Linked DNA regions of Homo sapiens: regions 1, 3 and 4 are each linked to region 2. The links come from fine-mapping of genetic effects on gene expression. A gene starts in region 2. Each other region holds a variant in brackets. All regions are shown on one strand. Distances are from middle to middle.

Region 1 (5,000 bases), 41 kb before region 2:
GACAGGCAGAGTGGGTATTCCAATACTATTCAATTGTTCCACAGCACAGAAAAGAAAAAATTCTAAATTCTTTCTATGGAACAAAAAAATCATCAATGACACCTGACCAAAGATGGCACACACACACACACACACACACACACACACACACACACACTACAGTCCAACCCCACTAATGAATACAAAAATCCTAACACTAGCAAACAGAACCATTAAAATCTATTAACAGGGGCCAGGCGCTGTAGCTCATGCCTGTAATCCCAGAGTTTTGGGAGGCCAAGGCGGGTGGATTGCCTGAGCTCAGGAGTTTGTGACCAGCCTGGGCAACATGGTGAAACACCGTCTCTAATAAAATACGAAAAATTAGCCGGGTGTGGCGGCATGTGCCTGTAGTCCCAGCTACTCAGGAGGCAGAAGCAGGAGAATTGCTAGAATCCAGGAGGCAGAGGTTGCAGTGAGCCAAGATCGCACAAGTGCACTCCAGCCCGGGCGACAGAGCGAGACTCCGTCACTATATAGATAAATAAATAAATAACAGGGCTGGGCGTGGTGGCTCACACTTGTAATCCCAGCACTTTGGGAGGCTGAGGCAGGCAGATCACCTGAGGTCAGGAGTTCAAGACCAGCCTGGCCAACATGGCGAAACCCCATCTCTACTACAAATACAAAAATTAGCCAGGCATGGTGGCGAGCGCCTGTAATCTCAGCTAATCAGGAGGCTGAGGCAGGAAAATCACTTGAATCCGGGAGGCGGAGGTTGCAGTGAGCAGAGATTGCGACACTGCACTCCAGCCAGGGCGACAGAATGAGACTCTGTCTCAAAAAATAAAAATAAAAATAAAAAAAATTAGCCAGTATGGTGCTGTGCGCCTGTAGTCTTGGCTACCGAGGCAGGAGAATCACTTAAATCCCAGCAGCAGAGGTCGCAGTGAGCAGAGATTGCGTCACTGCTGCACTCCAGCCTGGGCGACAGAGGGAGACTGTTTCCAAAAAAACAAAACAAAAAGAAACCATTAACAGGCCGGGCACTATCGCTCATGCCTGTAATCCCAGCACTTTGGGAGGCTGAGGCAGGTAGATAACCTGAGGTCAGGAGTTCAAGATCAGCTTGGCCAACATGACAAAACCCAGTCTATACTAAAAATACAAAAATTAGCTGGGCACGGTTGTGGGCACCTGTAATCCCAACTACTCTGGAGGCTGAGGCAGGAGAATTGCTTAGACCAGGAGGCAGAGGTTGCAGTGAGCCAAGATTGTGCTATTGCACTCCAGCCTGGGTGACAGAGTGAGACTCTGCCTCATAAAAATACAAAAATCAGCCAGGTGTAGTGGCTCACACCTGTAATCCCAGCACTTTGGGAGGCCGAGGTGGGTGGATCATGAGGTCAGGAGATCAAGACCATCCTGGCTAACACAGTGAAACCCCGTCTCTACTAAAAGTATTAAAAAAATTAGCCAGGTGTGCTGGCGGGCGCCTGTAGTCCCAGCTACTCAGGAGGCTGAGGCAGGAGAATGGCGTGAACCAGGGAGGCGGAGCTGGCAGTGAGCCAAGATCGCGCCACTGCACTCCAGCCTGGGCGACAGAGCGAGACTCCGTCTCAAAAAAAAAGAAAAAAAATCAGCCAGGCGTGTTGGCACGCACCTATAGTCCCAGCTATTCCAGAGGCTGAGGCATGAGAATTGCTTGAACCCGGGAGGCAGAGATTGAAGTGAGCCGAGATCACACCACTGCACTCTACCCTGAGTGACACAGTGAGACTCCATCTCAAAAAAAAAGGAAGGAAGGAAGGAATTATTTAGGTTGAATTACACAGAAGTTTGTCACTGATCTGTGTTCTCGAACTAAGAAATATGAAGATGGAGGCTAAGAAATCATTTCTCTTAATATTATAAATAAGCAATTAACAAATACCTTGGGAAAAATAAGAATACAA[T/C]AGAAGTGAGGAGTGTGACTTTCAAGATTACATTCTAAAAGATGGATTTCCCTCGTCTGTGCACTCTCTCTGGAACGCACAGCTCCCACACAGTACACTGCCCTATGGAGAGGCCCACAAGGCAAGGAACCGAGGGCAGCCTTGGGCCAACAGCCAACCAGCAAGTGAGGCCTCAGTCCAACAATGCATCAACGAGCTGAATCTTGCAACAATGATGTGGGTGAGACTAGAAGTAAATGCTTCCCCAGTTGATCCTTGAGATGACCACAGCCTCAGCCACCAGTTTGATGGCAGACTTGGAAGACCCTGAAGCAGAGAATCCAGCCAAGTTACGCTGGGATTTGTGATCCACAGAAGTTATGAGACAATGAATGTTTGTTGCTGTAAGCCAGTAAGTTTTGGGGTAATTTGTTACCTAGCAATAGATAACCAATACTTCTTTAACATGATAAAAACATCTATCTCAGGCCAGGCGCGGTGGCTTATACCTGTAATCCTAGCACTCTGGGAGGCTGAGGTGGGCGAATCACCTGAGGTCAGGAGTTCGAGACCAACCTGGCCAACATGGTGAAAACCTGTCTTTACTAAAAATACAAAAAATTAGCCGGTGTGGTGGTACATGCCTGTAATCCCAGCTACTTGGGAGGCTGAGGCAGGAGAATTGCTTGAAGCTGCGAGGCGGAGGCTGCAGTGAGACGAGATTGCGCCATTGCACTCCAGCCTGGGTAACAGAGTGAGGCTCCATCTCAACAACAACAAAAAAACATCTATCTCAGCCTAAGATCCAACATCCAGCTTGCCCTGAGGTATTCACACTGAACACATTCAGCTGCAGAGGTCACCCAGTGAACCAGGGCTGCTCACCTCAGGAGAGAGCAGCATCACCGGCCCTAGAAATCACTGGCAATGCCCCAGGGAAGAGGCAGGAAGCCAGGATCCTTAAATCTCATACTCAAGAATGTTGCAGGCCAGGCACAGTGGCTTGCAGATCCCAGCACTTTAGGAAGCCGAGGCAGGTGGATCACGAGGTTAACAGGTTGAGACCATCCCGGGCACCATGGTGAAACCCCTTCTCTACTAAAAATACAAAAATTAGCTGGGCGTGGTGGCGCGCGTCTGTAATCCCAGCTACTCCAGAGGCTGAGGCAGGAGAATCACTTGAACCTGGGAGGCGGAGGTTGCAGTGAGCCAATATCACGCCACTGCACTCCAGCCTGGTGACAGAGCGAGACTCCATCTCAAAAAAAAAAAAAAAAACAGAAGTCGAGTGCAGTGGCTTACATCTGTAATCCCGGCACTTTGGGAGGCCAAGGTGGGTGGATCACAAGGTCAGGAGATTGAGACCATCCTAGCTAACAAGGTGAAACCCCGTCTTTACTAAAAATACAAAAACTTAGCCAGGCGTGGTGGCGGGCGCCTAATCCCAGCTACTCGGGAGGCTGAGGCAGGAGAATGGTGTGAACCCGGAAGGCAGAGCTTGCAGTGAGCCGAGATCATGCCACCGCACTCCAGCCTGGGCGACACAGCGAGACTCCATCTCAAAAAAAAAAAAAAAAGATTGTTGCAATTTTACCTGGTGGATCCTGCCAAATGCAATAAAGAAGAAAAACAGAAAAAAACACAAAGAGAATATTGCAATTTGTCCACACATTTACTGAGTGCACCCTCTTCAGTGTGGCTTTTCTCTTCAGTAACCCTCTCCTGAAAGGAAGGCCCACAGACCTAGTCCTTTTTCCTTTTCTGTGTCCTCATGCCACATGGTGAGGGGGGCGCACAGAGAACCTCCATGCAATATATCCTTGTACCTCTGTGACGGTTAGAAATAACACCCAGAGGAGCCCACTGTCACATGAGTAACACAAAGAAGGCACCAGAAGAGATTCTCTGCTTTGAGGGACTGGTATCTTTCCTCCCAGCAGCTCTGACCAGAGGCTTCAAGCCCAGGAAAAAGTGTTGACCAGGCCAGGGCACATAAAGGGACCCCAAGGAAGGCAACAGTGCCCATGGGACCATCACCAACAGAGGAGCGAAACACGCAGACTGAAGCCTCGGAACAGATGAGAATAGACGAGAACACATGGAACCCCTCCAAGGCTCCAGGTTGTCCCTGGTCTGAAGACAAAGCTGAGGGGCCCCAGGATGGGAAACGGGAAGGAGGCAGCACAGGCACAGCCTCGGGAATGTAAGCTGGCCAAGCACAAAGCAAAGGGCAGCAGAGCTGAGAGCTCCTGGGAAGGAGATGGATGAGCCTGGCTGCGGACACAGGATGCTGAATTACCTGTCGAGCAGTCCATATGTGTCAGGCTGGGCTCATTGGTGGCTTTCATTTTCTTAGCAGTGTGCTCTGAGGTAGTGGGTAAGACCAAAGGGCTTGTGGCAGAAAAACAGGAAGCATTTACACCAAAGTTACTGTCTGGGACATGTTCAGCCTGCTCTATCTTCCTTTTCTGAGAGGGCAGAACAATGGAAGAAGGGATCACTGCCAATGCCGTCTGTGCTCTCCCAAGCAGGTGGCAGCCAGGGATGGAGTGCTGGAGCAGGAAATGGTCAATCCGGGCCTTGAGGGAGGGGTGAGGCAGGGGCTGAGAGTGCGGAGTAAAAGCTACCCCCGTGAAAGGGTCACTGGGCACTCGGCCCCATGTGGCTTCACTGCGGTTACACTTCTCCAGTGTGCTCTGGTCGATGACCTTGCCTGAGGGCAGCAGCATGGGACAAGGCATGATCTCCAGGGTGATGGGATCCAGGAACTCCTCAGGCACATCCTGAATGATCTCGGCCAGCTTCTGCAGGCTGGAGGGAGCCTGCTGGCTCTCAGGCTGGTCCCCAGGGTCACAGTCACTTTCCATGGGCAAGGCTGGAGCCTGCAGAGCCACATCCTGAGGCAGGTTCTCTGAGGTGACCAGCAGGATGCTGTCTATCACTTCCTGGGAGCAGGTCTTGGCCGGCTGACCCCACACTTCCAACCGCTTGATACAAGGGATACCGCCGCCTGTCACATGGGTGATACAGATCCTTAAGTGGGCCACGTGGCTAAGGGAAAGAGCCCCTTTATTCCAGAGCTCCTGG
Region 2 (7,875 bases):
ACCTTTCTCCCCTTTAGGGGTCCTAACGAAACAGAGTAGAGCCTCAGACACTCCTGGACCCTGTCAGTTCCAAAAGGCAATGCCCAAACCTCCCTGAATGATGTGATTTCACAGGACTGAAGAATCTTACCTTTCTCCCTTCCACATACCGGTCTGAGCAGAGCCGAATAGCTTCATTTTAAACTAGAGTCTAGAAGTTAGAGGAGGGGGGCCAGGCAGAGGAAGGAGCGATGCTAACTGTAGACTGAGTATAAGACACCTTAAACACATACAATTTACCACTTACCAGATCTGATCCCTCAATTCTAACACTTTTCCTTTCTATGTCCCAATAAAATTGCCACAAATAAATGAACACTCCAACCCTATTCTTGTCTCAGCAAATAATTTGTTGAGCAACCTTAAGAATTAAAAAGGCAAAAAAACTGGCTAGACAGGTGGCTCATGACCATAATCCCAGCACTTTGGAAGGCCGAGCAGGCAGATCACGTGAGGCCAGGAGTTCAAGACCAGTCTGGGCTACATGGCGAGACCCTGTCTCTACCAAAAAAAAAGGGCAAAAAAACCGAACTTTCTCTAGGTGCTGAGGTATTCTGCTGAGAATCTACAAAACTTCAAAGCCCCTAGTGAGGGCTTAGAGACTGGCAGTAAGGACCTTAGCTGTTAATGTGGATGTTAACTGGGCTAGACTCTTCTGTGTTTCTGTTTCCACACGGGAGCAGGGCCTCAGAGAGGAGTCTACCAGTACTGCGAAGGTGAAGCACTAGTGCAAAGGTGTTTAGGTCAAGTTCAGTGTCACTCGCAGGTCTAAGCCAAACTAAAATTATTCAGTCTAGCAATCCATCCCTTCCTTTTTGTTCTAGACTCCATGCTGATAGGAGAAAAACAGCACATCACAAACATTTGTGAAACTTTTTCAGCTACACAGCCCTTCCGCTTCTCTTTTAAGACTCTGCTATTCCTCTATCAGAATGGCAAGAAGGATGTGGGTAGATATAGTATGACTAAGCCCTGTAGATGATTCTGTTAGAGCTACTGCTTTTAAAGGGTTTCATAAAACCCTGTCTTTAGAAAACCTCTCCATATAACAACAGGCAGTAGGCACTCATGTCCTCTCAGCCCATCTAAATGGGGCTTCTAGAGGAATTACAAAATCCAGGCAGGTAAAGAGAAGTAGCTGCATGCACACAGTCGTCATAAGAGAAAATTCCCAAATAAATGGTCCAAGTACCTATAACTGTTAGCTCAATAAACACTTGGTTTTATCTGCTTTTACAATTTGCAAGGCTGTATAGAGGCTGTATAGTACATACTTCAGACAAATAAAGAAGGAGTTTCAGAATTCTTTTGTTTTTTTTTTCAGACAGGGTCTCGCTCTGTTGTTCAGTCTGGAGGGCAGTGGTGCAATCTCCGCTCACTGCATCCTCGACCACTGCCCCCCACCTCTCACCCCGGCAACCTCCCGGGCGAGGATCGCTCAAGGATCTCAAACGATCCTCCCACCTCAGCCTCCTAAGTAGCTTGGACTACAAGCCCACCACCACGCCTGGCTACATTTTGTTTTTTTGTGTGTTTTTTTTGTTTTTTGTTTTTTTCGTAGAGACAGAGTTTCCCTATGTTGCCCCCAGGTTGGTCTCGAACTCCTGGGCTCAAGTAATCCTTCCACTTCGGCCTCCCAAAGTGCTGGGATTACAGGCATGAGCCACCGCACCTGACCTTAGAATTATTTTATATCAAAGTTGACTTATTCACATGATGAATGGCAAGGCCTTATTAGGGACTAAAAAAATAAACCAATGGATGGGGAAGAAAATCATACTGACTAATAAACATTAGACCTGCATAACTGCCAAAGGCCTCACTTTTTAAGTTATGTTATGCAGCACAGAGTCTTCAGATTTTATTTACTTATTTATTTATTTATTTATTCATTTATTTGAGACGGACTCTCGCTCTCTCGCCCAGGCTGGAGTGCAGTGGCGCGATCTCGGCTCACTGCACACTCCGCCTCCCGGGGTTCACGCCACGCTCCTGCCTCAGCCTCCAGAGTAGCTGGGACTACAGGCGCCCGCCACCACGCCCAGCTATTTTTTTGTATTTTTAGTAGAGACGGGGTTTCACCATATTAGCCAAGATGGTCTCGATCTCCTGACCTCGTGATCCGCCCGCCTTGACCTCCCAAAGTGCTGGGATTACAGGCGTGAGCCACTGTGTCCGGCCCAGATTTTATTTTAGTCTACCAGGTAGTAGCAAACTATCCAAGGACTTGCCCAGGACCATTCAGGTCAGTGAGCTACAGAATCTAGTTCTGGAAAGGCAGCCATTCTTACTATTCACAAAGTGTAGAAAACGTGAATTCAGATTCCAGCAGCAACAAATGACTGGAGCACAAAACGCCAGCCACAGTTGGTGCTAACGCAGCTGGCTATCAGCTCCACAGGATGAAGCACTGTCCAAGGGTCTGATCAGTGAAGCATCACCCAAGACTGATGAACACAGCTGATATGAGGGGACCCAAAGTTCCCTGAGTCAAGACAGAAGAGCTGTGTCACGGTTTGCACAGAAAGAGAAAGAGCAACTATTCTTACCCACGGAAAGAAAAAGGGAGAAGGCCATCAATACTACCCTTAGGCTTGTGCAACGAGAAACTGCTAAAAATGGGGGGAAGGTATATATCCTATCATACTGATGTTTACCGAAGACTCCGCATCCCAAATGCTAAGCAACATACTGTAGGGCCTTGCTACTCAGTGTGTGGTCTGCGTGCCAGAGGCTTCAGCCTCGTCTGGAATCTAGTTAGGAACACAGTTATCTCAGAACCCACCCCAGTCCTACAGAATCAGAATCTCTAAGCGATTCGCAGGCACATCAAAGTGTGATGAGAGGCGCGGCAGAATATCTGACTACATTCTCTTAACAGCACCGTGAGACAAGTACTGTTACGATCTCCATTTCACAGAGGAAAAAAAATCAAGGGTCAGATAAGCCCCCTGCCAAAGATCACAAACTCAGGAGCGGCGAGAGTCACTGAAGTTCTCACCACAGCCAGGCCTGCGAGAGGCACTGGCAACCCAGGCCAAGAGCTGAACAAGGCCTCGATGCGCTCCAGCTCTGGGCCGGCCGGGAGGACAGGAGGCACAGGCCAAGGCCCAGGACGGTCGTGAACGCGGAAAGAGGCCGCCGCGACCTCCTCCCCGGCCGCCGCCACTCACCTGATCCTCCCGAAGGTGGGCGCCGCAACACCAAACCGGGGACGCCGCGGGCGGCGGCGACACAGATACTGGCTCCTCCGGCGACTCCGAGCCTCACAGCCCCACTTCCGGCCAACTGCCCGCTACTTCCGCCTGCTGCGCGAGTGACGGATGCGGCCGAGGCTCAAAAGACTCTGTCAGCGTTTCCCAAGGACATTTTCCACTGGAGGACGTTGTTGAGGAGGCAGGGGGAGTCTAGGACCTGCAGAGGGAAAACACCTTCCTGGATGGATCGCTCTGGAAGTCATTAAGCAGCTTAGTCCCGGCGCGGTGGCTCACGCCTGTAATCCCAGTACTTTGGGAGGCCAAGGCGGGCGGATCACCTGAGTTCAGGAGTTCGAGACCAGCCTGGCTAACGTGGTGAAACCCCCGTCTCTACTAAAAATACAAAAATTAGCCGGGCGTGGTGGCGCACGCCTATAATCCAGCTATTCAGGAAGCGGAAGCAGGAGAGTCGCTTGAACCCGGGAGGCGGAGGTTGCAGTGAGCCGATATCTCGCCACTGTACTCCAGTCTGGGCACCCCTGTACTCCAGCTCTGGGACACAGAGCGAGACTCCATCTAAAAAAAAAAAAAAAAAAAAAAAAGTAAGTAGCTTAGACACATGTTCAAATCTGAGGACCACCACTCAGGGTTTTATGGCCTTGGAGAAGTCACATAAATTCATTCTTGTTATATTATTATTATTATTTTCATAGAGACGGGGATGGCAGTGTCTTCCTATGTTGCCCAGGCTAGTCTCGAACTCCTGGGCTCATGCAATACTGCCGCCTCAGCCTCCGAAAGTACTGGGATTACAGGTATGAGCCATCGCACCCGGCCCACATAAATTCTCTAAGCCTGTACAGTGAGAAAAACAATACATTTTTTTTTTTTTTGAGACAAAGTCTTGCCCCATTGCCCAGGCTGGGGTGCAATGGTGCAATCATGGCTCACTGCAGCCTCAACCTCCTGGGTTCAAGTGATCCTCCTGCCTCAGCCTCCTGAGTAGCTAAGACCACAGGCATGCACCACCACACCTGTCTAATTTTAACAATGCATTGGTCGGGTGTGGTGGCTCACACCTGTAATCCCCGGTGTTGGAGACCGGCCTGGCCAACATGGTGAAACCTCGTCTCTACTAAAAATACAAAAAAAAATTAGCGGGGCATGGTGGCGTGCACCTGTAACCCCAGCTACTTGGGAGGCTAAGGCAGGAGAATCACTTGAACGCAGGAGGTAGAGGTTGCAGTGAGCCGAGATTGCACCACTGCACTCCAGCCGGGGCAACAGTGAGACTCCATCTTTTTTTTTTTTTAATGCATTTATAATAGAGATGTATCTGTAAAGTGCTCTCAGGAAAAGAGCTAGTGACATGATGGATAGATGAGCCTGCTGAGAGAAATGGATGTGGAGCTGGGGCTTAGCGAGGCCAGAGCTATGGAGCATGAGCCAGGGTGATTCTCCACCACCCTAAGAAGGAGGGCTGGGTCCTACTGGGTACATATATTGACACAGCTGTCAGTATAGGTACCTAGACAAGAAAGAGACTCTACTAAACCTCTACCTATCAGAAAGTCCTGGCCCCAGGCTGCCATTCCTGAGGGCACTTGAGATCTGCTGATCAGGGTCTTCATATCTTGTCAATGCCTTGGCTCTAAGGGGTGTGAAGGAGAGCTGAGAAATCATGCTCCCTCCAGGGCCTATCTTGTAGGGAAGACAAAATCAATGTAGGAAGAACACGTCCCTGCCAGGAGGGGCAAGCCTGACATCCCAACTCCTGAGCTCTGGAGACAGCGCTGTTTGAATATCTGGAGCCCCAGACCACAGACACCACTGCTTAGGGAGGGTTCTCTCCCTCAGGCCAGACCAGGGCAAACACTATTCATTGTTATGACTCTGTCCTTGCCAGTAGAACCCAGAGAAAGCAGAGAGCCTGCCCCCAAGGAATGAACCATGTTTGTTCCTAGGCAGCCATGACAATCCTGTTTCTCTTTGTAATACTCAAATTCCCATTCTCCCTTGAAGTGGGAGGAGCATGTGGCTCAGTTCTGGCCAACAGGACTTAAAGGGAAGGGTCCTGGGAGGGCTCTGGGAAAGCTTTTACTTTTCATGATAAAGTAGGGCCGCCTCAATGTCTTCATGGAGCTGTGGCAGCCACTTTGTGGTAAGGAGGGAACAACATGCCAAGGATGGAACAGTGGGAGGATGAAAATCTAGGTCCCCGAGGATCCAACAACCATGACACCACCTCCGGATTTCTTGTCAGGTTGGGGAAAAATAAACCACTCTTTGAGGTCCTTTGATTACTTACAGCAGAGTGCATTCTTGATTGTGTGCTTTGAGAGGATGACAGAGGAACTGTTGTAAAGGGAAGCTCTCTGCTGTGCAGCACGCTTGGGTCCCTTTTGCCTTTGGGGCTTCGCCATTAATTGCAAACCTGTTCCCAGTCTTCACTTCTATCCATTCAGCCCGCAAACATCTACCAGTTGCTGTAAGGTGGCTTAGGCGACTGCAGGCTGCATCTAGCTGTCCTGCGTCACCTGTTTTCTGGCTAGCAGCTTAGTGTCCAGATTCTGAGCTGGAGCCAGCTTTTAACCCCTTTGGCAACAGTCTGAGCTGAAGAGAAAGCCCCACTGGGCATATACATGGCACCACGACTCTTCCCGGGCAACGTGGCAGAACTTGGGCTTTGGGCCAACCTCCTAGCACGGCCCAGTGAGCACCTCCAGTCTCATGCCTCCTCTGGGAAATCTGTTTACTCCAGCTTTGCCCCCATCCCCCACCCGGGCCTCACCTCCCGCACCTGCAAAGACACAAGCAGGCCAAAGAATACCACTCAAGAGGCTTTTTCCGTTTTATTTCTTTGGGAAAGGAAAACAAAAAGTCTTTCCATCACATATGGTAGAGATATATATTTATATATATTTATATATAATTTCTTTTGTGGTTGGACGTCCCAAAGCTGAGTCTGTTCATATTTTTTTCTATTTTTTTCTTACTAATGCCTTCTCTTCTCCCTGCCCCTGTGGCCTAGGCCCAGGTTCTAGGGCAGGTACAGTGAGGGGTGAATGGAATGGGCAGTGGTCGCCAGGATGGCCTCCCACCCAGCTCAGAGACCTGGTGAGGACCACCCAGAAGGGCTGTGCAGAGGGTTAGAGGCCACACAGAGGGGCACTCATGTTTTTGTGGGGGATGCACAGCTCATTAAACAGTCACCAGTCATGGGAGGAGGCTGGTCAGGGGCTAGGGGACTTGCTCACAGTAGTTGCCAGCTCTCTCCACCTTGCCCCCCAAAACTCAGTCTTGGGGGTGGGAGGAAGAGAGTGAAAAAGAGAGAGATATAAGGGCTGAGGGCCAAGCCTCCTCCAATTTTTATTGCTGGTGAATTAGAAATTTGCTTTTCCCTTCCTGTCTTGGGGAGATAGACTCTGAGAGGGCCCCAAGAGAAGCAGCTGACATTGGCTGACCTAACCCCTCATGCCAGGCCTACCCTGGGCAGGTGCTGAGCCACCTCAGGGCGCCAGGAACCTCTCAGGTCAGCCTTGTTCTTCAAGGGCAATCACATCCAACTCTCCCCCCGCCCCCAAAACAAGGGCCTCCGGCTCAGACTTGGGCCAGTGGAGCTGGGAAGTGGGCAGTGCACCAAAGGTCAAGCGGAATTTTCTATTGGAAGAAAAGGTGAGACTTTGGGGAAGAGACTGCCTAGGAAGATGATGTGCTGAGCATGAAAGCAGAAAGAGGCTGGGGGAATAGAGTGCGGGAAGACATCGCAGACACTCGTCTGACCTCAGAAACTGGGCGAGGAGAGTGCCTGAGAGGCAGGTAGCACTTAATAGCTGTGTTAGAGCCGGACAGTGGTCCTGGGTGTGGGGTCAGCCAAGCAGATGGGGCTGTTGCCCTGCGGGATCCTGGCCAGAAGGGTGAGGGTAGAGCCGAGAAGCCGTCAGGCAACGCTTCCCAAGAACAGGAGGACAGATCTTCCCTGGGTGCTGGACTTCCAGCCCCAGTCCTCCCCTCCCGCAACACACACACAGGGACACACACTCACAACCAGGCCAGGCTCTGAGGCCTGAGTCCAAGAGATCTTGTTGGGGGAGGGGCTGGGCAGGTAGCCCTCTCAGCCAAAGGCAGGCCATCTGCTCCCACTTGTCCTGCCAATCTGCCCAGGGAGGGAGAGCACTGTAGGAGGGAGAGAGGTCTGGAGCCCAGGCTCTGTCAGTTTCAGCAAACCTGGTGCAGGCCCCCTCAGGCTCCATGGCCTAGGAGGTGAGCACAGAGAGCATCACTAGACACAGGGTGGCCAACAGTAGCAGCCCAGGCCTCCAGAAGGACTGGGGCACCTTATGGCACTGCACGTCTGCTGCCTCCATCTCCAACAAGGGGGTGCCGAGAAAGGGAGCATGACTCCCCCACCACCTAGGATTGCCCCCACTCACCCTGCCCTCCTCCTATTCCCTCCTTTTAGGGGGGTCCAAGTGGGCTGCCACGGGGGCAGTGCTGGAGCTAGGAGGGCAGGTGGGGAGGGAGGAACCTGGTCACAGCTGCTTAGAGAACCTCTTTGGTCTGGGGTTATGGGGTCTATGGGGAAGAGAGATGGAGGGGAGGGGACACTGGGGACTCTGGCCTTTTGACAGGACATGTG
Region 3 (7,875 bases), 29 kb before region 2:
CCCCTGGCCTAAAGCCTCCTGTTCTTTGTGAGCCTGTGTTGAAACTCCTAGTGCTTCCCACTTTGAGGCACATACACCTTTGCTTTGCCAGAGAATTTTAGAATCTGGCCTGGCATCCACATGGACTAAAGTTTCTACAATTCCTTTTCTGAAAGATTATATTAACAATGTCTCCAGGCTTCTGATACCTTTCGTGTTCTCCACGATAAGTAAAAACAAATGAAGTATCTGATGCATTGTGTCTACAAATATCCTCAGAAGCCCTATAGTTACCTCTTTTTGGCCAGGACACCAGAACTCATTTAGAGCAGCATTTCCCCCAGCTTCCCTGCCCAACTAGCATAGTAGCTTCCTGTCGGTTTGTTTTAAATGTAAAATTAAGCCATTCACTTTAATTGAATATAGAACCATTAAAATAAATATATAGCCAAGCCAATGAAATAAAACATTCCTCCTTGGAAAAGCAAGCCTAGGATGCCAAAGGAAAGCAGACAATATGCTACTGACATAGATGATGACACTAGAGACAGACATATGCAGAACGGTGCTGGCCCCAGGCAGATGGCTGAGGTTGGGGCCCTGGGACTTGAGAGGGTTTTCTTTTCACTGCTCCAGGCAGTTCCCTCTTCCCCTCTTGGCCCTGACAGAAAGCCAAGAAAAAACAAAGCCGGGCGGAGTGGCTCACACCTATAATCCGAACACTTTAGGAGGTTAAGGTGAGAGGATCACTTGAGCCCAGGAGTTCGAGATCAGCCCGGGCAACACAGCAAGACCCCGTCTCTACAAAAAAATAAAAAGATTAGTTAGGTGTGGTAGCACACACCTCTAGTCCCAGCTACTTGGGAGGCGGAGGCAAGAGGATCACTTGAAGCCAGGAGTGCAAGGTTACAGTGAGCTATGACTGTGCTATTGTACTCCAGCCTGAGTGACAGTGAGACCCTGTCTCAAAAAATAAAGTAAAATAAAATAAGAGTTCTTCTAGACTTAAATGTGGTTATTATGCTCTATGATATAGAAATGTGGAAACCTTGACTGCCCTTTCCAATATGTGTTAGATCAGACCTGAAATTAAGGAAAATCTTGGTATACCCTTAGCTACTTCTTCCCACCTCTGTGTGGAAGCGAGTCAGCCTTCTGTTCAAGCATCTCAGCTCATGAGGCTTCTCCACCCGCGTCAGGGGCTGTCAACTACCCCAGTCAACTACAAAAGCATATGGACCTAACCCTGACCAGACACAGACTACCTGCTCTCCACAGCACTCATCAAAATATAAGTTGAGGGAACATTTACAGAAGAGTGTTCAGTCCAGCCCCGTTACATGCTCCTTGGTGCTGGTCCAAGTAGCTTCTCTTGCCTCTTGTCTGGCACTCCTCGTGGCTGCTGCAGATCTTATCCCACACCACTATCTGACAGATTTCTTAGCAGTTTTGATCCTCACCAGTTGCAAAAATAAATGTAACACATTGATAAAAATTCAGTGGCCGACTTGTGACGATTCATAGGACACCAGAGTAGCAGGACATATCAGGTGATAACCATAATTTTAATCTCTAAAATATACCACTCCATTGAGCTGACCCTCAGACCAGTGCACCGGCCTATCCTCATGTTCATCCCAGCCACAACCATCACCACCCTCACCACCCCCTGCAAATACTCTTCACCAAGCTACTCATTGGCACTGTGTGACAAGGAACTTCAATAAGAAACAGCTCTTTAAAGTCAGTTACTGTTTTGTTTAGTGGACAAAATGATCATTGTCTGTTCTATATGGTATCCTCTCTTGGAGACCCATAAGAAAATTTTCTCTTTGGTCTCAGTACTAGAAGAGTTGTTTATCGCAAGCAATTCAATATTTTATGGTATGAATATGGATCACATTCCTTCTTGACTCTGGCTGTTAGAAAGCTCCGAATAAAATCTGTGGCCCATCCCTCAAATTTCTCCCTACCTGAATTATTTATTTTTATATAATAGAGCATAATATGTAAGGTAGCTTAAAATAATTTTGGAACAAAGTGGGGTATAAATATGCTGGGCATAGGGGCTCACGCCTGTGATCCCAGTACTCTGGGAGACCAAGGCAGGAGGATTGCTTGAGGCCAGAAATTTGAGACCAGCCTGGGCAACAAAGTGAGATGCCATCTCTACAAAAAATTTTAAAAATATTAGCTGGGCATGGTGGCATGTGTCCGTAGTCCCAGCTACTCAGGAGTATGGCTTGACCCCAGGAGTTTGAGGCTACAGTGAGCTATGATCACACCACTGTACTCCATCCAGACTGGGTGACAGAGTGAGACCCTGTCTCCAAAAATAAATAAATAAATAAATAAATAAATAAATAAATAAATAAACAAACAAAGAGGGTGGGGGGCATAAATAATTCTCCTTTTGGGAGACATTTAGGTTGTTTATGCCTTTTTTTTTTTTTTTTTTAAAGACAGGGTCTCACTATGTTGCCCAGGCTGGAGTGTAGTGGCTATTCACAGGTGCCATTACAGTGCACCACAGCCTCAAATTCGTGAGCTCAAGCAATCCTCCTGCCTGAGTGCCCCAAGTCCTGGAACTACAGGTATGGGTCACCAAACCCAACTTGTTTGCAACTTTTTACTACTACCTTAAGATCAAAATCTTAAGTAGATTTTTGTCATTATTTTTTCCTTTAGTACAATTTTCACTTTTTTACTCAAGGGGTCCTACATGTTTCTAGTTAAGGTTGCTATTTATGAAAGGTTCTTCTTAACCCATTAATTTTTCTAACTGGTCATTCCTATATAGGAAAGCTTTTCACTTTGGTATCTTTACTATATGTTCAGCTGTCTTATTGAACTCTTATTGATTTTAACACATTTTCAGTTGTTTTTGCTTTTTTTTTTTTTACAATCCTATTATCTCAATAATGAGAATTCCTTTCTCAAAATGGTAACTCTTATTTCTGTCTCTCATTTACTGCATTAGCCAGAACTTCCGGAATTACACAAAACAGTAAGACAGTTGCCATCCTCGTTTGTGCCCATTAGAAAATGCCTCTTTGGGCCAGGCGCAGTGGCTCACACCTGTAATCCCAGCACTTTGGGAGGCCGAGGCGGGCAGATCATAAGGTCAGGAGTTCAAGACCAGCCTGGGCAATATGGTGAAACCCTATCTCTATGAAAATACAAAAATTATCCAGGCATGGTGGCGTGAGCCTGTAGCCCCAGTTACTCGGGAGGCTGAAGCAGAAGAATCGCTTGAACCTAGGAAGCAGAGGTTGCAGTGAGCCGAGATCATGCCACTGCATTCCAGCCTGGGCAACAGAGTGAGACTCCATCTCAAAAAAAAAAAAAGAAAATGCCTCTTTGAACATAATGTTGATTGTTAGATTGAAATATCATCTTTATGTTAATAAAGCATTCTAATTTTCATATTTTTTGAAGTCAGGAATATGCTCTGAATTCTGATTTTTCTCTATATATTGTCTTTTATTATTTATCTTATCTGACAGACTAATGGGATACATTAACACTTTTTTCTAATTTTAAACCATCCTTTTTATTCCCAGGAGAGATTCTATTTGGTTGTAGCATATTGTTCTTTAAATGTACTGTACTACTGAATTTATTTTGCTCATATTTAATTTTAGATGGGATATTATTGCACATTCATGGAACATTTGCAAGCCCTGTGCTAGGCACTGGAGTATAGAGATAAAAATGAAATGGCAGTGAAACTATTCTGTATTACACTGTAATGGTAGATACATGACATTATACATTTCAAAACCTATATATTCAAAACCTGTAATTCAAAACCTATAGAATTATACAACACAGGCTGGGCGTGGTGGCTCACGCCTATAATCCCAGCACTTTGGGAGGCAAAGGCGGGCAAAGCACTTGAGGTCAGGAGTTCGAGATCAGCCTGGTCAACATGATGAAACCCCATCTCTATTAAAGATAAAAAATTAGCCGGGCAAGGTGGCGGGCACCTGTAATCCCAGCTACTGGGGAGGCTGAGGCAGGAGAATCGCTTGAACCTGGGAAGCAGAGGTTGCACTGAGCCGAGATCGAGCCACTGCACTCCAGCCTGGGCAATAGAGTGAGACACTGTCTCAAAAAAAAAAAAAAAAAAAAAACTGGGCGTGGTGGTTCACATCTGTAATCCCAGCACTTTGGGAGGCCAAGGCGTGAGGATCAGTTGAGGCCAGGAGTTCGAGACCAGCCTTGCCAACATGGTGAAAACCCGATGCTACTAAAAATACAAAAATTAGCTGGGCATGGTTGCGCATGCCTGTAATCCCAGCTACTCTGAAGGCTGAGGCAGGAGAATCACTTGAGCCCAGGAGGCAGAGGCTGCAGTAAGCCGAGATCACGCCACTGCACTCCAGCCTGGACAACAGAGTGAGACCCTGTCTCAAAACAAAACAGAACAAAAACAAAACACAAAGAATTATACAGCACAAAGAATGAACCTTAAATTATAAACTTAATAATAATTAATCAATATTGGCTCATTAGTTATAAGAAATGTACCGCACTAAGATGTTAATAGCATTAATAATACTCAATTTTTAGGTAAATCTAAACTGCTCTAAATTATAAGGTGTATTAATAATAATAATAACAAAGAAATGGCTGGGTGAAACGAGGCGTGATTGGTCATGCCTGTAATCCCAGCACTTTGGGTGGCTGAGGCGGGCAGATCACTTGAGGTCAGGAGTTCGAGACCAGTCTGGCTAACATGGCGAAATCCCGTCTCTACTAAAAATACAAAAAATTACCCGGGTGTGGTGGCAGGTGCCTGTAATCCCAGCTACTTGGGAGAGTGAAGCAGGAGAACTGCTGGAACCCTGGAGACGGAGGTTGCAGTGAGCCAAGATAGCGCCACTGCACTCCAGTCTGGGTGACAGAGTGGGACTGTCTCAAAAAAAAAAAAAAAAGAAATGGCTGGGTGGGGTTGTGTACACCTATAAATTCCAGCACTTTGGGAGGCCAAGGCAGGGGGATTGCTTGAGGTCAGAAGTTCAAGGCTAGCCTGGGCAACATAGCGAGACCCAGTCTCTACAAAAAAAAAAATTAAATAATTAATAATAATAAAGAATGATTGGGGGAAAAAGTGATTGAAAACAACTCAGGACTGAAGATCAAATTGAAATATGCAAATTGAAACGAATGAGTGTGTTGTCACAGGAGAATGGCAGATCTTTTTTAAAAATATCTTACAAATGATA[T/C]GTTTCTGTGGGAAACAGTGATGTCCAAACAGTAGGATTCCGTAAGAACCTGGTTGCTATCAAAGTCTTTAATAGGTATAATCTCATCATCTATCTTGTTCCAATACCCTGGACTTTTAAGGTCAGATGCCTTCTGCCTTAACAGAAAAAAAATAATGGCTCAACATATGAAAATGCAAACAGCCTAGCCCAGAAAGACGGCCTCCCTAGTCCTGCTGAGGAAATGGCCATGTAACTTGAACTCACTGCAAACACTGTCCAGTACTTACAAAGCATAGCCACTTTCTCCAGATGTGGCATCTAAGTACAAGAAAGACAAGGCTTGAGTATAACTTAATCTAAAACCTCAGATTGTGGCTAATGTGCCCTGCTTTCAGAGAAGTAGCTTGGAGACAGATAATAATGGCATTGTAAGATGGCAATACAGTTTATAAGAAAAAAAAAAGAATATAAAATAGTAGACACTCTTGTACCTACCACCTAGATTTAGCAAATGTTAACATTTTGCTATGTTTGCTTCTGATTTCAGTGTTAAAAGCAATATTTAAAAGATAAAAACAAAACCCAGCACCTATCCTATTTCCTCTCTCTTTTTGCCAAGGGGTAAGCTCTTTTTTTTTCTTATTTTTTTTGGGGGGGGGAAACAGGCTCTCACTCCCATGCCCAGGTTGGAAAGCAGTGGTGCAATCTCGGCTCACTGCAACCTCAACTTCCAGGGCTCTGGTGATGGGTATTCTCCTACCTCTGCCTCCCGAGTATCTGGGACTACAGGCGCGCACCACCACATCCGGCTAATTTTTGGGGGTTTTTTGGGTAGAGATGGGGTTTCACCATGTTGCCCAGGCTCTTCTCAAACTCCTGGGCTCAGGCAATCCACCCACCTTGGCCTCCCAAAGTGCTGAGATTACAGGTGTGAGCCACCTTGCCCGGCTAAGGTAAGCTTTATCTAATGTTGTCTGTCATTCAAATCAGTATAGGTATGCATATATATATATAAACTACATATAGTAGTCATGTATTTTAATATACCTTAATGATAATATATTATGTGTATCATCTTGCAACTTGCTTTTCCATTAAGCATTATATTAAGGTTTTCCATATTGAAATGTTTACATTTGGTGTATTCATTTTAACTTCCTCATATTTAATTGTATGACTAAAACAGTTTCTCCACTGCCCTATTACTTATGTTGTTTAAAATTTTTTACTATGAAAAAAATGCTGCAATAAACATTCTCTACAAATCTTCTTGTGGGAAAAATAAGAAATGAAATGAACGGCCTTCTCTGTGAGTCATGAGACAATAAAGACTTCTTTCTAACAGTGATTATATAATAGAATATATGCTTGAACCCGGGAGGTGGAGGTTGCAGTGAGCTAAGTTCGCACCATTGCACTCCAGCCTGGGTAACAGAGTGAGACCCCATCTGAAAAAAAAAAAAAAAAAAAAGGCCAGGCGTGGTGGCTCATGCCTGTAATTCCAGCACTCTGGGAGGCCAGACAGGCGGATCATCTGAGGTCAAGAGTTCAAGACCAGCCTGGCCAATATGGTGAAACCCCATCTCCACTAAAAATACAAAAATTAGCCAGGCATGGTGGCGGGCGCCTGTAATCCCAGCTACTCGGGAGGCTGAGGCAGGAGAATCACAATCACTTGAACCCGGGAGGTGGAGGTTGCACTTGGCCGACACCGTGCCACTGCACTCCAGCCTGGGCAACAAGAGCGAAACTCCGTCTCAAAAAAAAAAAAAATTTATATACATAATATAAAGGTAACAGAGCATTCTGCGGATGACACAGTAAGGAAAGATAACCTAGATCAATGTTTTTCAATTTGTGGTTTTTGGAATCAAGTAATGGGTTAAAGAAAAGAAATAATTAGAAGAGAATACAAAATATGAAGGTGCAAATAGTATGGATATGTCATGAAATTGTTTCAGTTTTGTACAAATATATTTAACAAATGCATGTATATCATCTAATATAAAATGCATTTCTTATTGTGACTTGATAAAAAAAATTTTTTTAAAAAAACGTTGGTCAAAAGTTTTGACCAAAACATTGGTCAACTCAGGGGAAAATTCACAGGAGTAAACATGTGAACTTAGGGTGACTAGGACACATGCCTGATCTCATGGACAACTCTGAAGAGGGACAGACACTCCATATTAATGCTACCACAGACTGTAGACTACAGGAGCCAAGAGGTGAGAACATGAACAAAAGAGAAGGAGCCCTGGGGAAAGGGATCAGGAAGTGTCAAGGCACAGAGGAGGGAAGTGTGAGGCTGGTTCAGGAGATGCTGAACATGCCACTTAGCTATGGAGGTGGAGTAGGAGCCACAGCTGGGAAGGCAAACGGAGCCGGATGAGGAAGGCCTTGAACGTCATGCCAAAAAGTTTAGACTACTTCACTTAGTAGGCTGAGGTAGTGTTTCCCAAACTGCAGGTTGAGAATTAAGAACTTAAATTACCGAGCCATAACTAGTATTTTTAAAAATTAAGTAGAATAGAAAATGTCAGCATGCACCACATACAAGGGTGAGCACTGTTTTGTGAAAGTTTTGTTTCAGTTACATATATATGTGAACACACAAACACACGCAATTATTCATTTGGGGTTTTGATGTAAAAGTTATTTCTTACTAAAGGTTGTAGTTAAA
Region 4 (7,875 bases), 20 kb before region 2:
AAATGGGATTTCCCCACGTTGGCCAGAGTGGTCTCGAACTCCTGACCTCAAGCGATCCACCCACCTCAGCCTCCCAAAGTGCTGGGATTACAGGCGTGAGCCACTGTGCCCGGCCTTAATATTACTATTATTTTGAGATGGAGTCTTGTTCTGTTGCCCAGGCTGGAGTGCAGTGGCATGATCTCAGCTCACTGCAAGCTCCACCTCCCAGGTTCACGCCATTCTCCTGCCTCAGCCTCCCGAGTAGCTGGGACTATAGGCGCCTGGCACCATGCCCAGCTAATTTTTTGTATTTTTAGTAGAGACGGGGTTTCACTGTGTTAGCCAGGATTATCTCAATCTCCTTACCTCGTGATCCACTCACCTTGGCCTCCCAAAGTGCTGGGTTTACAGGCGTGAGCTACTGCACCCAGTCCCTGTTTTTCTGAGACAGTGTCTCACTCTGATGCCCGGGCTGGAGTGCAGTGGGGCAATCTCGACTCACTGCAGCCTTCACCTCCCGGGTTCAAGCAATTTTTGTGCCTCAGCCTCCCAAGTAGGTAGGACTACAGGCATGACCCATGCCTGGCTAATTTTCGCATTTTCAGTAGAGACAGGGTTTCACCATGGTAGCCAGGATGGTCTCGAACTTCTGACCTCAAGTGATCCACCTGCCTCGGCCTCCCAAAGTGCTGGGATTACAGGCGTGAGCCACCACACCCAACCAGAAATTGTTTCTTTTTAAAAGATCTAATTAAACTTTTAAAGATAATTGTAGACTCATGTGTAGTTGTTAAAAAACAATACAGAGAGATCCCACATACTCTTTCAGGCTCACTGCAACCTCCGCCTCCTGGGTTCAAGTGATTCTCCTTGAGTAGCTGAGATTACAGGTGCCCGCCACCATGCCTGGCTATTTTTTGTATTTTTAGTAGAGACGGGGTTTCAACATGTTGGCCAGGCTGGTCTTGAACTCCTGACCTCAGGTGATCCACCCACCTCAGCCTCCCAAAGTGTTGGGATTACAAGTGTGAGCCACCGTGCCTGGCTGTAACATCTTGCATAGCTATACTAGAACTTCATAACCAGCCTACTGATACTGGTAATGATTCACCGATTTTCAGATTTCACCAGGTCTGCATGCATTCATTTGTGTGTGCCTATCTAATTAGTTCAGTGCAATTTTACTCTATGTGCAAAGTTGGGTAATCACAACCACAGTTGATACAGAACACTTTTATCACAAGAATTTCATGTTATCCTTTAGAAAGTCTTTTATCTTATAAATCCAAATACTCTACTTCCACAGAAGTCTTGAAATTTTTCACCCAGATCTAAGCCTTGGCTGAAGACTCCAGTTAAGCTCACTGCCCACACTGTAAGAAACAAACTTGAGTGACACATTTAGTCTTGGCATTCATGTCACTTAAATGATAAATATAACTATGCAGGAAAATGCAAAAGTATATATAGGCTGGGCATGGTGGCTCACGCCTGTAATCCCGGCACTTTGGGAGGCCAAAGTGGGCAGATCACTTGAGGTCAAGAGTTTGAGATAAGCCTGGCCAACATGGTGAAATGCTGTTTCAACTAAAAACACAAAAATTAGCCAGCCATGGTGGCGCATGCCTGTAGTCCCAGCTACTCAGGAGGCTGAGGTGAGAGAATGGCTTGAACCTGGGAGGCGGAGGTTGCAGTGAGCTGGGATCACACCACTGCACTCCATCCAGCCTGGGCGACAGAGGGAGACTGTCTCAAAAAAAAAAAAAAAAGTATTATGAAAGTATTATGATCATACATTTGTTAAAAATCTATGTCTAGGAATATGTATACATAAATAGTTGGAGAGGTAATGGTGGGCATGCAGAAATGTAAACATCCGACATACTAGGCTGGTGGGATAAGTTGTTCTTCTTTTCCTTTTATGTATTGAAAGTTGATGTATGCCTGAGGTCTCAGGATAACAGCGGAGAAGACTGAGATTTATGTTCAGAGTACTTTTTGCAGCTGCCAGTACTAGGGCTCAGAAAGGGAAGTGCAAGGGAAGGGCCAAGAAGGGATCCAGGAGTTGAGTGGCCAACTGTCTTGGCATACCCACAGCTAAGGAGTTTTCCAGAACATAGTACTTTTGGTGCTAAAACCTGGGCAAACTTGGAAGAGTTGGTTGCCCTGTCTCGAAGGTTGTTGTCTGTGCTTCCTTGGAGCTTGAAGCAACCAACAAACCTTTTGTTTTTGGTGTTGAGGTTCAGCACCTGGGGGTAGGGAAGTGTGGAAGGATAATTTAGAAGAGAATAAGGTGACCATGACACTTTCTGAACACCTCAGCATCCAGCTTCCTTCAGCCTACAAAGTTACCATAGCTGCGTTATACAATCTGATTTTGAGTCTCA[T/G]AGAGATGTAATGAAAAGTAATTCTGGCAGACACACATATTTTAAAGACTAGACTCAAACAGGTTACAGAAGGGAAAAAAAAGAAGAAGAAAAGATTACCTGTCAAGTAAGAGAAAAGCATTTCACCTCAAAGAGTGGGTGGAATATCAATGCACTGAGCAATTTCATAAATTGGGCACTTCAGCTTTTAAAGAAGTGCACTACTTCTTATAATTTCTAAATTGAGTTACCTGTCCATCCATGAAAAAAGTTTGACTCATGTGCCTTTTTCTTACAACTGGTTAAAATGAAAGACAGTTGTCCCAGCCCATCCCACACAGTTACCCACCAGTGAGAGGTATGCAAAAAAACCAGAACACAGGTTAGAGCCCCAAAGAAGCCTGCAGTTTTATACCACGTGGAGCCAAGTCACCCTCTAAGGGCTTAACATGTGCTAGGCACAAGTAGACTCAGTTTTTCCTCTTTATTTTTAATTTTTATTTATTTATTTATTTATTGAGACAAGAGTTTTGCTCTTGTTGCCCAGGCTGGAGTGCAATGGCGCGATCTCGGCTCACTGCAACCTCCCCGTCGTGGGTTCAAGCGATTCTCCTGCCTCAGCCTCCTGAGTAGCTGGGATTACAGGCACCCACCACCACACCCAACTAATTTTTTTGTATTTTTAGTAGAGACGAGGTTTCACCATGTTTGCCAGCCTGGTCTTAAACTCCTGACAGCCTGGTCTTAAACTCCTGACCTCAGGTGATTCACCCACCTTGGCCTCCCAAAGTGCTAGGATTACAGGCGTGAGCCACTGCACCCAACCTATTTTTATTTTTTGAGACGGAGTCTTGCTGTGTCACCTCGGCTGGAGAGCAATGGTACGATCTTGGCTCACTGCAACCTCCGTCTCCTGGGTTCAAGCGATTCTCCTGCCTCAGCCTCCTGAGTAACTGGTATTACAGGCATGCACCACCACACCCAGCTAATTTTTTTATTTCTAGTAGAGATGGGGTTTCACCATGTTGGCCAGGCTGGTCTCGAACTCCTGACCTTGTCATCTGCCCACTTGGGCCTCCCAAAATGCTGGCATCATAGGCATGAACCACCACACTCGGCCTTTTTACTTTTTTTTTTTTTTTTTTTTTTTTTGAGATGGAGTCTCACTCTGTCACCCAGGCTGGAGTGCAATGGTGCAATCTCAGCTCACTGCAACCTCCACCTCCTGGGCTCAAGCGATTGTCCTGTCTCAGCCTCCTGAGTAGCTGGGATTATAGGCACACACCATCATGCCCAGCTGATTTTTGTATTTTCAGTAGAGATGGGGTTTCACTATGTTGGCTAGGCTGGTCTCGAACTCCTGACCTCAGGTGATCCGCCCACCTTGGCCTCCCACAATGCTGGGATTACAGGCGTTGAGTGAGCCACCGCACCCAGCCCAGTTTTTACGTTTAAGAAATGTATAGGCTCAAAACAAGGCACAGATAAGCCGTCTTTCTCCTGAGAGACTCAGTCTCAAAACAAGATCTACAAAGGTTTTTACTACCATTTACTCAGCACCTTAGTAACAGTGTCAGCAAAATTCTACGGGAACCCAGGTGAGGTGGCCAGTCTCTCCAACATAAAACCTGACCCTAACCCTAACCCTTTCCCTCTCCTCCATGGCCTACTCCATCTGCTCTTGCTTCTCTCCTGAATTTTCAACTTACCTCTGACTACTGAAACCTATCGTCAACATGTAAACACATTCAAGGCTCTTCTGCCAACTCCTCCCACAAAAAACCACGCTGGTTTAATGGTGCATCTTTCTTAGGGTTACCAGATTTTTTTTTTTCAACTTTTATTTTAGATTCAGGAGACACATGTGCAGGTTTGTTACCTGGGTATATTGCATGATGCTTAAGGTTTGGGGTACAAATAATCATGTCACCCAGGTACTGAGCATAGTACTAACAGTTTGTTTTTCAACCTTTGCTGCCCCCTCTCCCCTCCCTCTCTCCCATCTATTTTTTTTTTTAGGGTTGCCAGATTTTTTTTTTTTTTTTTTTTTAGACTGAGTCTCACTCTGTCACCCAGGCTTGAGTGCAGTGGCACAATCTCAGCTCACTGCAACCTCTGCCTCCCAGGTTCAAGTGATTCTCCTGCCTCAGCCTCCCAAGTAGCTGGGATTACAGACACGTGCCATCATGCCCGGCTAATTTCTGTATTTTCAGTAGAGACGGGGTTTCAACATGTTGGACAGGCTAGTCTTGAACTCCTGACCTCAGGTGATCCGCCCGCCTCAGCCTCCCAAAGTGCTGGGATTATAGATGTAAGCCACCACACCCGGCCAGTTGCCAGGTTTAACAAATAAAAATAAAGAATGTTCACTTAATCTGAAAAGTGGTGTGTGCTGAAAAAATTTTAAAAATAAAGAATATTTGCTGCATATTATATTTATTGAACAATCAGCAAACTAGGAATAAAAAATAACTTCCTCATCAGGTGTGGTGGCTCACACCTGTAATCCCAACACTTTGGGAGGCCGAGGCAGGTGGATTACCTGAGGTCAGGAGTTTTTGATACCAGCCTGACCAACATGGAGAAACCCCGTCTCTACTAAAAATACAAAGTTAGCTGGGGGTGGTGCATGCCTGTAATCCTAGCTCCTTGGGAGGCTTAGGCAGGAGAATCACTTGAACCCGGGAGGCGGAGGTTGTGGTTAGCCGAGATTATGCCATTGCACTCCGGCCTGGGCAACAAGAGCGAAACTCCGTCTCAAAAAAATAAATAAATAAAAATAAAAAATAACTTCCTCAACATGATAAAAGGTTTATAAAAACCCCATAGTTAACATCATACTCAGCCGGGAGTGGTGGCTCATGCCTGTAATCCCAACACTTTGAGAGACTGAAGCAGGAGTATTGCTTGAGCCCAAGAGTTCAAGACCAGCCTTGGCAACATAGAAAGACTCCACTCTACAAAATATAAAAATTTAGCCAGATGTCGTAGTGTGCCCACAGGTGGTCCCAGCTACTTGGAAGGCTGAGGCAGGAGGATCACTTGAACCTGGGATTTTGAGGCTGCAGTGAGCCATAATCATCCCACTGCACTCCAGCCTGGGCAACAGAGTGAGACCCTTTTTCTTTTCTTTTCTTTTCTTTTTTTTTTGCCTCAGCTACTTGGAAGGCTGAGGCAAAAGGGATCACCTGAGTCCAGGAGGTCGAGGCTGCGGTGAGCCATGATAGTGCCACTGCACTCCCAGTATGGGCAACAGGGTGAGACAGTCTCAAAAAGAAAAAAAAAAAAAAAAGGTCAGTATTGGTGGCTCACACCTATAATCCCAGCACTCTGGGAGGCCAAGGTGGGCAGATCACTTGAGGCCAGGAGTTCGAGACCAGCCTGGGCAACATGGTGAAACCCCATCTCTACTAAAAATACAAAAAAAAATTGGCCAGGCATGGTGGCTTATGCCTGTAATCTCAGCACTTTGGGATGCCAAGGTGGGCAGATAACCTGAGGTCAGGAGTTTGAGACCAGCCTGGCCAATTTGGCGAAACACTGTCTCTACTAAAAATACAAAAAAAATCACCCAGGCGTAGTGGTGGGTGCCTATAATCCTAGCTACTATGGAGGCTGAGGCAGGAGAATCTCTTGAACCCGGGAGGTGGAGGTTGCAGTGAGCTGAGATCGTGCTACTACACTCCAGCCTGGGTGACAGAGTGAGACTCCGTCTCAAAAAAAAAAAAAAAAAAAAGGTGCCGGGCTTGGTGGCACACTCCTGTAATCCCAGCTACTTGGGTGGCTGAGGCACGAGAATCGCTTGTACCTGGGTGGCAGAAGCTGCAGTGAGCAGAGATCACGCTACTGCACTCCAGCCTGGGCGACAGAGAGAAACTCTGTCTCAAAAAAAAAAAAAAAAAAAAGAAAAGTATGTGTATATACCCAATGGTAGGTGAAAGACTGGAAACATTCCCCTAAAATCCAGAACAAGACAAAGATGCCTACTTTCATTGTTTGTATTCGATATCTTATTAGAAGTTCCAACCAGAGCAATAAGGCAAGAAAAAAGAAAAAAAAGGAATCCAAAGTGGAAAAGAAGATATAAAACTGTATTCACAGATGAAAAGAGCCTATATATAGGAAATTCTGAAAAATTCACACAGCAACAAAAAAAATTATTAGGGCTAACAAATGAATATTAAGCACAATAGCAGGTTAATCATCTGTCTTTTTTTTTTTTTTTTTTTTTTTTTTGAGACAGAGTCTCTGGCTCTGTTACCCAGGCTGGAGTACAGTGGCATGATCTCAACTCAATGCAACCTCTCTGCCTCCTAGGCTCAAGTGATTCTCATGCTTCAGCCTCCTGAGTTGCTAAGGTGTGTGCCACCACATCTGGCTAATTTTTGCATTTTTAGTAGAGACAGGTTTCACCATGTTGGCAAGGCTGGTCTCAAACTCCTGGCCTCAAGTGGTCTGCCCGCCTCAGCTTCCCAGAGTGCTGGGATTACAGGTGTGAGCCGCCATGCCTGATTAATCATCTGTATTTCTAAACACTCACAATTAACAACTCATAAAAGAAGTTTTAAAAACAATTGCATCTACAATAGCATAAAAAAGAATAAAATAATTAGGAATAAAGTTAACATCGGGGTACAGTGGCTCACACCTGTAATCCCAGCACTTTGGGAGGCCGAGGTGGGTGGATCACGAGGTCAGGAGTTCAAGACCAGCCTGGCCAAGATGGCGAAACCCTGTCTCTATTAAAAATACAAAAAATTAGCTGGGCGTGGTGGCAGGTGCCTGTAATCCCAGCTACTCGGGAGGCTGGGCAGAGAACTGCCTGAACCTGGGAGGCGGAGCTTGCAGTGAGTCGAGATCGCACCACTGCACTCCAGCTGGGTGACAGAGTGAGACTCCGTCTCAAAAAAACAAAAAAAAAATTAGCCAGTTATGGTGGCATGCACCTGTAGTACCAGCTACTTGGGAGGCTGAGGTTAGAGGATCGCTTGAGCCCAGGATTTGAGGCTGCAGTGAGCTACGATCACATCATTGCACTCCAGCCTGGGTGACAGAGCGAGACCCTATATCAAACAAAACAAAACAAAAAACTAAGAAAATGTAAGATTTATACACTGAAAACTATAAAACATTCCTGAATTAAAAATCTAAATAAATTAAAAGATATATACCATGATTATGGATTAGAAGGCTTAATACTGTCAAGATGGCAAAATTCCCCAAAGCAAACGACAGATTCAATACTGTCCCTATCAAAAGCCCAAAGGCTTTTCTTGCAGAAATGGGCAAACTGATCCTAAAATTCATATGGAAGTGCAAGGACCATGAGTAGCCAAAACAATATTGAAAAATAACAAAGTTGGAGGACTCATACTTCCCAATTATGTGGTATTGGCATAAGAATAGATGAATGGAATAGAAATGAAAATCCATAAATAACCCCCCACATGTATGGTCAATTGATTTGACACAGATGCCAAAACCATTCAATGCAGGAAGAATATCCTCTTCAACAAATGATGCTGGG

Which allele goes with the higher level. Alleles are on the strand shown, and positions count from the first base shown. SD is a standard deviation of normalised expression in the study named.
With allele C in place of T in region 1, the expression in sun-exposed skin of the gene that starts at base 3,312 in region 2 is higher (small effect, 0.21 SD a copy in GTEx).
For the expression in thyroid of the gene that starts at base 3,312 in region 2, T is the low allele of the variant in region 3 and C is the other (small effect, 0.33 SD a copy in GTEx).
For the expression in prostate of the gene that starts at base 3,312 in region 2, G is the high allele of the variant in region 4 and T is the other (small effect, 0.31 SD a copy in GTEx).

Evidence for each region. PIP is the estimated chance that this variant, and not a neighbour inherited with it, causes the effect.
Region 1: its variant is the best candidate, but not a certain one, in a credible set for the expression of UBOX5 in sun-exposed skin (GTEx, PIP 0.50).
Region 3: its variant is the best candidate, but not a certain one, in a credible set for the expression of UBOX5 in thyroid (GTEx, PIP 0.52).
Region 4: its variant is the best candidate, but not a certain one, in a credible set for the expression of UBOX5 in prostate (GTEx, PIP 0.68).

Annotation. Positions count from the first base shown.
Region 1 is chr20:3,117,172-3,122,171 of GRCh38, forward strand. UBOX5 (U-box domain containing 5) reads right to left here. Exons shown (of 5, transcript NM_014948.4): 3 at 4,213-5,000. The region is part of intron 5 of UBOX5-AS1 (UBOX5 antisense RNA 1); the gene reads left to right. Among named protein-coding and RNA genes, the nearest start is that of UBOX5-AS1, 13 kb to the left of the region's middle. The variant T/C (reference allele first, on the strand shown) is at 1,935.
Region 2 is chr20:3,156,554-3,164,428 of GRCh38, forward strand. UBOX5 (U-box domain containing 5) reads right to left here and starts at 3,312. Exons shown (of 5, transcript NM_014948.4): 1 at 3,213-3,312. It overlaps FASTKD5 (FAST kinase domains 5), which reads right to left and starts at 3,312. Exons shown (of 2, transcript NM_021826.5): 1 at 3,213-3,312. LZTS3 (leucine zipper tumor suppressor family member 3) reads right to left here. Exons shown (of 5, transcript NM_001365618.1): 5 at 6,064-7,875.
Region 3 is chr20:3,127,915-3,135,789 of GRCh38, forward strand. The region is part of intron 1 of UBOX5 (U-box domain containing 5); the gene reads right to left. The region is part of intron 5 of UBOX5-AS1 (UBOX5 antisense RNA 1); the gene reads left to right. Among named protein-coding and RNA genes, the nearest start is that of UBOX5-AS1, 25 kb to the left of the region's middle. The variant T/C (reference allele first, on the strand shown) is at 5,211.
Region 4 is chr20:3,136,540-3,144,414 of GRCh38, forward strand. All of the region lies in intron 1 of UBOX5 (U-box domain containing 5), which reads right to left. The region is part of intron 6 of UBOX5-AS1 (UBOX5 antisense RNA 1); the gene reads left to right. Among named protein-coding and RNA genes, the nearest start is that of FASTKD5, 19 kb to the right of the region's middle. The variant T/G (reference allele first, on the strand shown) is at 2,370.